Linked DNA regions of Homo sapiens. The protein of the gene in region 1 purifies or fractionates together with the protein of each later gene. This does not show direct contact. Each region holds a gene or a part of one and is shown in the gene's direction. Other genes may lie near its edges. The genes, in order: PRKACB, PRKAR2A and VAPA.

What was found.
Region 2: the proteins of PRKACB (region 1) and PRKAR2A purify together in Homo sapiens (affinity purification with mass spectrometry; 7 studies listed by BioGRID and IntAct, with this or other methods). This does not show direct contact.
Region 3: the proteins of PRKACB (region 1) and VAPA purify together in Homo sapiens (affinity purification with mass spectrometry; 5 studies listed by BioGRID and IntAct, with this or other methods). This does not show direct contact.

The regions. Positions count from the first base shown.
Region 1 is NC_000001.11:84,142,495-84,146,242, forward strand, and holds the start of PRKACB (cAMP-dependent protein kinase catalytic subunit beta), read left to right. Parts: upstream 1-1,776; 5' UTR 1,777-1,867; coding exon 1,868-2,054; intron 2,055-2,781; exon of another isoform or gene 2,782-2,824; intron 2,825-3,748. UniProt on the Homo sapiens protein: Mediates cAMP-dependent signaling triggered by receptor binding to GPCRs.
Region 2 is NC_000003.12:48,846,311-48,850,058, reverse strand, and holds the start of PRKAR2A (cAMP-dependent protein kinase type II-alpha regulatory subunit), read left to right. Parts: upstream 1-2,184; 5' UTR 2,185-2,462; coding exon 2,463-2,724; intron 2,725-3,748. UniProt on the Homo sapiens protein: Regulatory subunit of the cAMP-dependent protein kinases involved in cAMP signaling in cells. Type II regulatory chains mediate membrane association by binding to anchoring proteins, including the MAP2 kinase.
Region 3 is NC_000018.10:9,912,226-9,915,973, forward strand, and holds the start of VAPA (vesicle-associated membrane protein-associated protein A), read left to right. Parts: upstream 1-1,790; 5' UTR 1,791-2,031; coding exon 2,032-2,110; intron 2,111-2,378; exon of another isoform or gene 2,379-2,840; intron 2,841-3,748. UniProt on the Homo sapiens protein: Endoplasmic reticulum (ER)-anchored protein that mediates the formation of contact sites between the ER and endosomes via interaction with FFAT motif-containing proteins such as STARD3 or WDR44.

The DNA.
Region 1 (3,748 bases):
GAAACAAATTATTGTTATGCACACATAATATTTATACATAAAGCTACAAATTTAAGAATTTTGTCATATAGATGCTGTTGCATATTTGTTTAGATTGATAAAAATTTTATTACACAAAACAAAGTATACAGAAATGAGCTGTTACATGGCAAAATTCATTGGTCAGTGTTTTGTTAACTGTTATTCACACATAATATTTATACATAAAGCTATAAATTTAAGTTTATCTTATAGATACTGTTACATACTTGTTTAGATTGATATGAATTCCATTACACAAAGTATACACAAATGAACTGTTAAATGGCAAAATTCACTAATCAGTGTTTTCTTATTGGCCTTTTATGTAGTCCTAATTTGATTACATTATTGTTCCTATTTATTTTACTTATCAGTATTGTTTCTATTTTTTATGTTTGTCAAACAGTTGGCAGTAAATCTGAAGTAAGATTTTTTTAGATAGATTGTTTTAGATAGACCTTTTTCTTTCTTTCCTTTCCTTCCCTTCCCTCCCCTCCCCTCTGCTTCCAAAGAGAACCACGGAAATTTCTTATCCTTTAGTGTCAAAAAAACAAGTACTCAAAATTTTTGTTAAATGCCACAGGTTACTTTCTTTCCTGAAAATTGACAAGGCAAGTTTTACTTACTTTTAATCAAAAGAGATGTTTTGGCCAGGCGCGGTGGCTCACACTTGTAATCCCAGCACTTTGGGAGGCCAAGGCGGGCGTATCGCTTGAGGCCAGGAGTTTGAGACAACTCCTGACCTGGCCAACATGGAGAAACCCCATCTCTACTGAAAATACAAAAATTAGCCGGGCATGGTGGTGCGCGCCTATAATCCCAGCTACTCGGATGTCTGAGGGGCGAGAATCGCTTGAACCTAGGAGCGGAGGTCGCAGTGAGCAGAGGTCGCACCACTGCACTCCAATCTGGGAGACAGAGTGAAACAACGTTTAAAAAAAAATAGAGAGGTGTTTCTAAGTGAGATCACTAAATCAGGGGTTTAGGTAAGTAGTAGTCTTCAGTGGTAAGGTTTTAAAATTAACATGTCTCAGCCAACTAGAAGGAACTTTTTTCTCTCAATTGAAATTTCTTGCTATGGTGGATTTTATATAATTTAAATCTTGTATTTTGTTCTTTTCAAATTTTAGAATGTTTTAAAATGTACCCCTGGTAATAGACATATGTCAGCAGATTATAAGTTTGATAAGCAATACTGACATACTAAGTGTATGTAGTTCCTGTATGTATTAGGCCTAAATCAATGAATTAGAAACATTCAATTTTTTAAAGTGCTATTTCACATTGTTTTATTTATACGTGTTATAAATTTGTTTTGCAAGAGTTTTTTCATACCCATTTCATACTAGTTTTTTTTTATGAAAAGTTAGCTGCTTATAAGGATTCATAAAATCTGTATATTAGTTGATTTCCTAGAAAAAATACAACCTGTCTTTAGCATGTTGTGTTTGGAGGACAGCTTGGCCTTCAGTTGTTTGCATAGACTTGTCATACATGTTTAACTAGTTTTCTTTTTAAAGAATGTTTAGCCTACTATATATATAAAGCTTTATATTTAATGCTCTCATTAGCCTATATATTAATATTAAAACACCCAAACATAAAGCCTTTTAGGCAGATATTGCAAGTTTTTAAAATCCTCAACTCTAGCTGAAAAGTGTTTTGCTAAGAAAAGCTCAGTAATGTGCTGTTTTATATTAACAGGAAACAGAACAGCAGTAGTGGTTTGAATACCCTGCAAACAGGAAGTTTGACACATGCATAGCTCTTAGCTTCTGTGTAAGAAGTTGTGAGCTCCTTCTGGAAACATTTGCAGTTACATTAAGTAAAGTGTAAATGCACATGAATGGCAGCTTATAGAGAACCACCTTGTAACCAGTATACAGGTACAACTACAGCTCTTCAGAAATTGGAAGGTTTTGCTAGCCGGTTATTTCATAGACACTCTAAAGGTACTGCACATGATCAGAAAACAGCTCTGGAAAATGACAGCCTTCATTTCTCTGAACATACTGCCTTATGGGACAGATCAAGTAAGTTTTGTTTTTTAAATGATACATTATAACTAGCAACTAAAATGGTAATTGGAGTTTTACAATCAAACATAAAGAACCCTCTTTTGTTTGTTGTTTTCTGATTTTCACAAGGACATTTTGCAAGATGAAGTTGAAAGAATTCCATAAAAACTTGATTATAAGTTGAGCTGAATCATTCAGCTTTCATCATTGTATGGTTTTATTTTTGACTAAGTTCAATATCAGTGACAAGATTTTCTATAAAATTCTTACATCATTTCTAATGTACTTTTTTTTGTTGTTCTTACATAAAAATGAAATACTTAAGTTTCAGAAACAACCATCTGTTTACTTCTTAAAATGTCTTGTATTTATAAGCTTTAAACTTTGAAAGGGGCAACAAGACTCTTGAATTTATAATTACATTTCTATTGTGTTTGCCATGGTTTTATTTTTAAATGCATGTGAGAAAGTTATTTCAGTTTTACAAACAGGAATTTCTAAAATAAAACATAATTATTCTATCTAAATTCTTACACTTATAACATTATGGATATCAAAAACTTTATAATTATATTTTATGTTATTTATACATATGACTCAAATGCAGGAAAAGTTGGTTATGCATGAATCACATTCTTTCAGGCATGTTAAAATGTTTGAACTTGCAGCTTTGCTAAAATGGTGCTGGGGAACCATTTTTGGTGCCATACACTCTAAAAGATAAATTGCACATATAAACAATACTAGTGCCGCCATTCTACATCTCACCTTGGACCCTCCTCAAGGTATTTCTGTGACTCCAATTAGAGGAACAATAGAATTACCCTTGAAACTTTTGCCCTCTTTGGTGTGTTTGTTTGATCATCAAATAGCACTAGCGTTTGACTCTTTCTGTTTATGTATTTGGTAGCAGTTAAGGAAGAAAACTCAGCTTAACAACCACAACAGCAAAATCAAGAATGGCTTACAAAATTTACTCCTAGGTTTATACAGCACCTTGACAGTGTTATAGAAGCTTATTTGAATTAATTTTTTACTAAATCAGAAATTTTTTTACATTCTTCAAACTATTTTTGGGAGATTGAGGAAGAACATGTATTTGTGCATTTTTTCCACTTAAAAGGTTTTGGGTTATTTATAGTCTTTACTGTATAGCAAGTTGATGGATGAGGAATATGAATATATATCTTCAAGTTAATGAACTGTTGAATATTAAAATAGTGGTATAATATTAAACTTTACCATGTAACAAAAGCTTGTTAATTATTGTCCTTGCCCTATTCTTTTAAATTGCAGTCTTTTAAATCCTTTTGGAAATTATTTTTATGCATTTCAAGTATGTTTTAATTTAAAGTTAAATGAGGAATTAAGACAGAATTGAATTAATTTCTGTTTCATTAATACCTGCTCTTCATATAGTGGGTGTTTAGTAAAAGTGTCTCAAATAAATGAATGTTAGGGGTTTTTAATAATTAAAAGTTATGTTTGAACTAGACTTTCACCACTTTTTAAATGTATGGGATCTGTGATGCTTTCTAAAACATATTTTAAAATCTAGTAATGGAAAATAGTATCATGAGCCATGATTTCTATTGGATAAAATGCTGTTTTGTTTTTTTTTTATTGTGAAGTCAAAACAAATAGGATTCTTGTACACAAATAAAATTAGGAGCAAACCATGTAGCGCTGCAAATAATATGCATGATGTA
Region 2 (3,748 bases), on another chromosome or scaffold:
TGGAGGCTGAGGCAGGAGAATGGCATGAACCCGGGAGGTGGAGCTTGCAATGGGCCGAGATCATGCCACTGCACTCCAGCCTGGGCAACAGAGCAAGACTCCATCTCAAAAACAAACCCAAACAAACAAAATGGCCAGGTGCAGTGCCTCACGCCTGTAATCCCAGAACTTTGGGAGGCTAAGGCGGGCAGATCCCTAGGTCAGGAGTTCGAGACCATCCTGGCCAACATGGCAAAACCCCGTCTCTACTGAAAATACAAAAATTAACTGGGCATGGTGGCAGGTGCCTATAATCCCAGCTACACAGGAGGCTGATGCAGGAGAATTGCTTGAACCTGGGAGGTGGAGGTTGCAGTGAGCTGAGATCGTGCCATTGCACTCCACCTTGGGCGACAAAAGGAAGACTCCATCTAAAAGAAAAAAAAAAAGCCAGGTGCGGTGGCTCACGCCTGTAATCCCAGCACTTTGGGAGGCTGAGGCGGGTGGATCACGAGGTCAAGAGATTGAGACCATCCTGGCCAACATGGAGAAACCCCATCTCTACTAAAAATAGAAAAAATTTGCTGGGTGTGGTGGTGCACGCCTGTAGTACCAGCTACTTGGGAGGCTGAGACAGGAGAATCGCTTGAACCTGGGAGGCAGAGCTTGCAGTGAGCAGAGGTCATGCCATTGCACTCCAGCCTGGGCGACAGAGTGAGACTCCTCTCAAAAAAAAATAGGGGCCTGGCAGAACGGTCGCCCTCATTCCTTCCAGATGCCTTTTGAATGCTCTGCTGGATGGGTGGTTGGCTGAGCCGTGGGGCATCTGAGAACAAGTCAGTAGACCTTCTCCAAGAGTATGCAATAAGGACTGAGCAGGAAAAAAGTTGGAGACTGCCTGTCCCCTCACAAAGTTGATGGTCTAACATTCTTCTCAGGGTCAAGAAACTTGTCCAGGGAGACACTGCTGTTTATAATCACAGGCCTGCTTAGCCTAGAACCTGGGCTGGCCTCTTCATCAGTGGGGATGAGGGCTCCTTGCTCCCAGCTGCTCAGCTCCCAGCAGCATTGAGCTCCTGGGTGTGTGCCAAGCCTGTATGGGAGGTGATAGGGAGGATTTTAATTAATACTGAGTAATTACCAGGCGGTGTTTAAGCATCCCAAATGCCCTCAGGTTCCCAAACCTACAGCTACTCTCTTCCTGGCTAGGCCTGTAAGGAGAGGGGGACTCTGCTCTATGCCCAGTGGGCCTTTGGTTAGCACGTAGGCTGTAGACTGGACATCCCAGGAAGGTCTCCACCTTTTTCAATACCCTTCCAGTTTGGTAGGAGGAGGAGGGCAATTTGGGAAATAGTCTGGCCTCTACAGTTCACCTATACCATCTTCCCAGGGGCAAAGGATAACAATGCCTGTGGTCTGCTCAACTTCATCAAGCAGTGTTGACCTAGGGCCCAGTGTAGAATGTGGGGAGAGGAATGGGCAGACCTAGATCTGGGGACCCTGGTGAAAGTGCTCCAGGAGGAACAGGCACAGAGGTCTTTGCTGCTTTTGGCCTTATTTCCCTTTCTCACTGTACACATTTGGCTGAGTGAACTCTTTCAAATTTATTTTTCTGTCTGTGGCTCTCAAATTATGATCTCATTCAAACGCCTACTTCCTACAAGGCCTTACCCGTTTGACATCTCAGAGACCTGACAGACTCCTGAGTTATTCCACCATTCCACCTGGCAGCCAAGGTGGTCTTGACTCCACCAGGCCTTTGCTCTTGTTGTATGTTCAGATGGCTTTCCTCCAGATCTTCCCCTGGGCGGGTCCTGCTCAGGCCTCGGGGCTAGCTTGAATGTCACGCCGGAAAGTGAGCCCTCTCTTGCCCTTCATCACAGCAGAATCACACTGATGTGCTCGTATGCTTCTGCTTCTCGCTGTGTCTCTGGTGCTTAGTAAGTGCTGGCCAAAAAGAGGCTCTTGGCATCAGCTGAAAGAATAATTTAAAGGTCTTCAGGACCAGGCGAGAGGCACTAATCGGTCCCCTTCATGGGTAGACCGTTCATTACCTAATTCCCTGGATTCCCTCCGTGAGCTGGCATCAGGAACACTCCACTGTCTCGACCCCCCGACAGCCCGAGGGGGCGGGTCATCTAGTGGCGCAAGCGCACTGAGGGCCGGTGCTAAGCGGGGACGCGCACGCCCGCGGTGGCGTGCGTCACAACCAGGACGCCTGCCCCGCCCGTCCAGCTCGCCTGCCCGTCGGTCCCCGCGGCGGCGGCGGCTGCCCAGTGACAGCGGCGGCGGTGCCAGGTCGGCCGTGGTAGCGTAGGGTTGCGCGGCCCGGAAACGCAGAGCCGGCCAAAGAGCGGCGCGACGTGAGCCGGGGCCGTGCGCGAAGAGACCTCGCGGGCGCGGAGCGAAAGGCCGGCGTGAGTGAGCGCGGAGACAGTGGCCGCCGGCGGCCCAACCCGTCTATCCCTTCGGCCGCCGCCGGCATGAGCCACATCCAGATCCCGCCGGGGCTCACGGAGCTGCTGCAGGGCTACACGGTGGAGGTGCTGCGACAGCAGCCGCCTGACCTCGTCGAATTCGCAGTGGAGTACTTCACCCGCCTGCGCGAGGCCCGCGCCCCAGCCTCAGTCCTGCCCGCCGCCACCCCACGCCAGAGCCTGGGCCACCCCCCGCCAGAACCCGGCCCGGACCGTGTCGCCGACGCCAAAGGGGACAGCGAGTCGGAGGAGGACGAGGACTTGGAAGGTAGGCTGTGGGCGGGGCCCTGGGGAGTGGTGCAGGAGGTCTCCAGAGGTCTAGAGGGGTGGCAGGGAGCCAGGTGTCGCGCCGCAGCCAAGCCGACCGCAGGCTGGGATTGGGAGCTCTGTAGCCGCGTTTCTAGCGTTTCCCTGAGACACCGGCGTGAGCCCGCGTGCGCCACTTCCAAATTGAGCTCCGCGATCCTGCGAGCCCTAGAGCGCACCGAGTGATTTGTCAGATCCAGCCTTGAAGGAAACGTGCGCGCTGTCGGCCCTGCTAGAGGATCCCTCGCCTTTGCTTAAGACCCTTCACCAGTTTTGGCTTCGAAGACAACAGCGTTCTCATCCAGTGACTTGTGTTTAATTGATAGGACAGTAAGTTTGTTTGGAAATAATAATTTTTTTTGAAAAGTTACTGTGAAAACTTTTAAGCATAGACAAAAGAGGAAAGGTGAGATGAATCCCTATATGCCATCACCTACATTTAACAGTTGCGTTTGTCACAAAGTTTCATCCATACCTTTTTTCTTTCTTTGCCGAAGTGTATTAAAGCAAATCTCTCAGGTCATTTCACCTCTGCTTACTTGAGTTTGTATTTCTTCAAACATGGTCCCTGGGAATATTCCTATTTTTAAAAACTTGGCCAAAACGATTGAATCAAATTTGGTGAGAGTAAATAATTATCTTGCCGGCCGGGGCAGTGGGCCCCTATAGTCTATACCAGCTACTCTGGAGGCTGAGGAGGAAATATCGCTTGAATCCAAGAGTTCGAGACCAGCCTGGGCAAAATAGACACCCTACCTCATTTTTGAAAACGAAAAACCTGGCCGGGCGTGGTGGGTCACGCCTGTAGTCCCAGCACTTTGGGAGGCCGAGGCGGGTGGATCACCTGAGGTCAGGAGTTCGAGACCAGCCTGGCCAACATGGCGAAACCCCGTCTCTACTAAAAATACAAAAATTAGCCGGGCGTGGTGGCGGGCGTCTGTAGTCCCAGCTACTTGGGAGGCTGAGGCAGGGAGAATCGCTTGAAC
Region 3 (3,748 bases), on another chromosome or scaffold:
ACTGCACTCTAGCCTGGGGGACAGAGCGAGACTCCCTCTCAAAAAAAAAAAAAAAAAAAAAGAAAGAAAGAAATGATGGCACAAACCCAAAGACTGAGCAGCAGCAAGATTTATTGTGAAGAGCAAAAGAACAAAGCTTCCACAATGTGGAAAAGGACCCAAGCAGGCTGCCCCTGCAGGCTGGGGTGGCCAGTTTTTATTGGCTTATTTGTCCCTGCCCATGCCCTGCTGATTGGTCCATTTTACAGAGTGCTGATTGGTCCATTTTACAAACCTCTAGCTACCTACAGAGTGCTGATAGGTGCGTTTTTACAGAGCACTGATTGGTGCATTTTACAAAACTCTAGCTAGCTACAGAGTGCTGATTGGTGCATTTTACAATCCTCTTGTAAGAAAAGTTCTCCAAGTCCCCACCCAACCCAGAAATCCAGCTGGCTTCACCTCTCACTCCCAGGAATTTCAGGGCTGAAAACACATTCCTCGTGGGTGGCACAATCTTCTGTGAATGCCAGGCTAGCAATTCCAGCAGGCTGTTCCTGGATGGACCCTAATACCTGGATCGCACATGAAAACTTGGATTTGGTGCCTACTTCTAGACTGCTGTTTCGTCTCGTTTATTTTCTAGACAAACTGTGCTGCTCCATGGCAGTAGCATCAATATGTCTTTTGTTTCGTGGCGCTACCTAGGGATTTAAATTCAAACCGTATCACAAAATACAATAAAGGTTTATTTACAGCACATTGGTTTCATTTGACGTTCCTGTACCGGACTACCCTGGCAATCGGCTAAAGTTTTGTCAGCAAGTTTGCTGCTGGGATTTTTCTTATTTGGTTCAGTTTACTACAGCCTATCGTAAGTGATGCAGATGGAGTTAGTTTCTAACATGTGAACGTGAGAACTGTTTTGGTTTGGGTCCATCATTAAAACTGAAGAAGATTATTTGGGTTCGATGGTGTAGATTTTTGACTTTTATTTCTAGTTTCTGTGTGCTTTGTCATATTTCCCCTTGCTTCCTAGACGAGGTGTGTTTCCTTATCTGATTTTGCATCACTGGAGAGAACTCAGGAAGCAGGAGAGGCTGAATTGGATACCACGGGGAATGCAGCCCTGCCAACAGAGGACTGGATAGAATTAGAGCAAACGGACACATCCCCCCACGCCTGTTCTCCACAGGGCAGATTTTATTAATATATTTCTAACATTGGGGCCTCGTTTCAGTCTTCAAGTTTTTTCTTTTTTAGCGCAAACTAGACGCGCTCTGAGAGCCAAAATTAGCGTCCGCGAACCCCACCCCATTGCCTCCAACAGACCTAGCTCTCCTTTCCACCCTCAAACAGCCGTTACTACAGTTCCCAGCAAGCACCGCGCAGGGCCGCAAAGGGCCAGGCCCTCGGCGAAGGCCCCGCCCCGCAGGGGGCATGCCGGGAGTTGTAGTGAGTGGGCGCTTCCCTACTACTACTTGTCCCTTCCACTGGGCATTCCCACTTGGAAGAGTGTGATGCGCTGCCAGAGCAGTTTCTCTAGTTCCGTACTCGGAGCTCAAGGTGACAGAGGACTGCGCTTCCAGCCCTGCGCTGCGCATCGCGTCGGTCCCGCGGACCTTTGCCCCGCCTCCTTCCACACCCGTTCCCTTGACAGCTGGGCTGCGCTCCGGGCCGCGGCAAGCCGCGAGCGCGCAGGCGCAGCAGCCCCGCGCCGCGCTAGGCCGGCCTGGAGGGCGGGACAAGCGCTAGAAGCTCCCGGCCGGGGGCGCGCACGTAGGCACGCAGAGGCCGTCACGTGGGTCGCCGAGGCTCGCAAGTGCGCGTGGCCGTGGCGGCTGGTGTGGGGTTGAGTCAGTTGTGGGACCCGGAGCTGCTGACCCAGCGGGTGGCCCACCGAACCGGTGACACAGCGGCAGGCGTTAGGGCTCGGGAGCCGCGAGCCTGGCCTCGTCCTAGAGCTCGGCCGAGCCGTCGCCGCCGTCGTCCCCCGCCCCCAGTCAGCAAACCGCCGCCGCGGGCGCGCCCCCGCTCTGCGCTGTCTCTCCGATGGCGTCCGCCTCAGGGGCCATGGCGAAGCACGAGCAGATCCTGGTCCTCGATCCGCCCACAGACCTCAAATTCAAAGGTAGGCAGAACGGGGACACCCCCGGGTGGGGTGGGGCGCGCGGACCGCTGGCTGTCGGCGGGGGGGCGCGGAGGGCACGTCCGCGGCCCTGGCCCGAGGGAGCGCCCCCTCCCCCACGCCCCGGCGCCTTCCCTTTCCCGGCTGCTTTCTTGCCGCCACCTCGGCCGGCCTGCCCCTTGCTCCGGCCCGCTTCATCCCCTCCCGCCCGCCCTCGCTGCGGTGCGCGCGCCGGCCGGGGCGAGGCGGAGGGGAGCCCGGCCCTGGCGCCGCCGCCGCCGCCATCTTGCGGTCCCGCGGGGGCGCCTCCTGGGCGTCCGGTCCCGCCCGCGCCGCGGTCCGCCTGGGCCCGCGTCCTTGGCCCCAGAGGCCGACGGCGTGCTTCGGCGGGGCGTGGGCGGCTGGGCACCCGAGGGCGTGCGCTCTGGGCTGCGGCGGGGAGTGGGCTCTGGAGGTGGCGCAAGCTGCGTCTGTCGCCCGCTCCCGGCTGTCAGCGGCGCGGGGAGGCTAGGGCACGGCGCGGGACCCCTTGGGAGTGAGAGCCGCCCCCCGACCCCTGCCCCGGCCCGGGGAGAGCTCGCTGCAGCCGGCCCTCGGGTTCCGCGGAGGGCGTCGCTTGTCACCTTTCCGCCAGGTTTAGAACTCGGCCGTCAGGTGTAGGACGCGCCGGGGAGGTGGAGAGTCCTTGGAGGTGCCTGGCGAGGGCTGCCCGGTGCTGTTGGCACGGACCCAGGTGCGTGCGGGCAGGAGCGATGCGTCAGCCGCAAACGGAGAGTTGTAGGTTCATAGTAGCGGGGCTTCCTGCCTTCTACGACATTTCAGTGTGCCACCCGCGTGCTTTTATTTAGCCCTTTAGTTGAGCTCCTCTGCTGAGAAACCTTCAGTGCGTGTGACTTTTTTGCTTTTACGTTTGCGGTTTCCGACAGATCCTGAGAAGGCTGATAAGGTGTCACCCAGCTCTGGAACTTTGTAGGTTTTTGTAGTACTGCCTGTGATAAGTTTTTTAGTCTGACTTGGTGATCCTGGAAGAATCCCAGGGGCTTTTGGTCGGTTTCCTTGTCAATATGTAGTGTACTTTAGGAAAGAGAGTTAAAATGTACAGATTTTTATTTTTTTTCTTTGTTTTTAAGGAATACTGAAAGAGTGTGAACATCTAATAGAAAGTAGGTTCCTTCCTATCTTTAGTTAAGTGTAAAGTGAGTCCCGTTTTGGAAGTCTATGTCTTGTATTTCAATTGTTGAATGAGAACAATTTTTGTGAGGTGTATAGCAATTCTAGTGCTAAAAGAAAAAATTAAATCCTTTATTGTTGTGTAAGGCTGAGTCCAAGAGAAAGCCAACTACATTGTTTTCCATAGGAAAAACTTCAGGTTTAGGAATTTAAAATATATTCTGGAATTATGAGATTAATATTGCATAACTACATTGCAAGCTTTTTAGTGCGTTTACAAATTTCTTTGAATAGAAGTGTAAGTGAGCTACTTGTTGGGTAAGGATTTGGTTTTAAGGTGCAGTGAATGTATTTTATTGCAAGTTTATGTAAGTTGTGTGATTTTTACGTAGTTGTAGCTGGGGGAAAACCTTTGAGGAATTATGAAGAGTCCTGACTCAGCCATTATCTTGAGATAATTTAATGTAAATC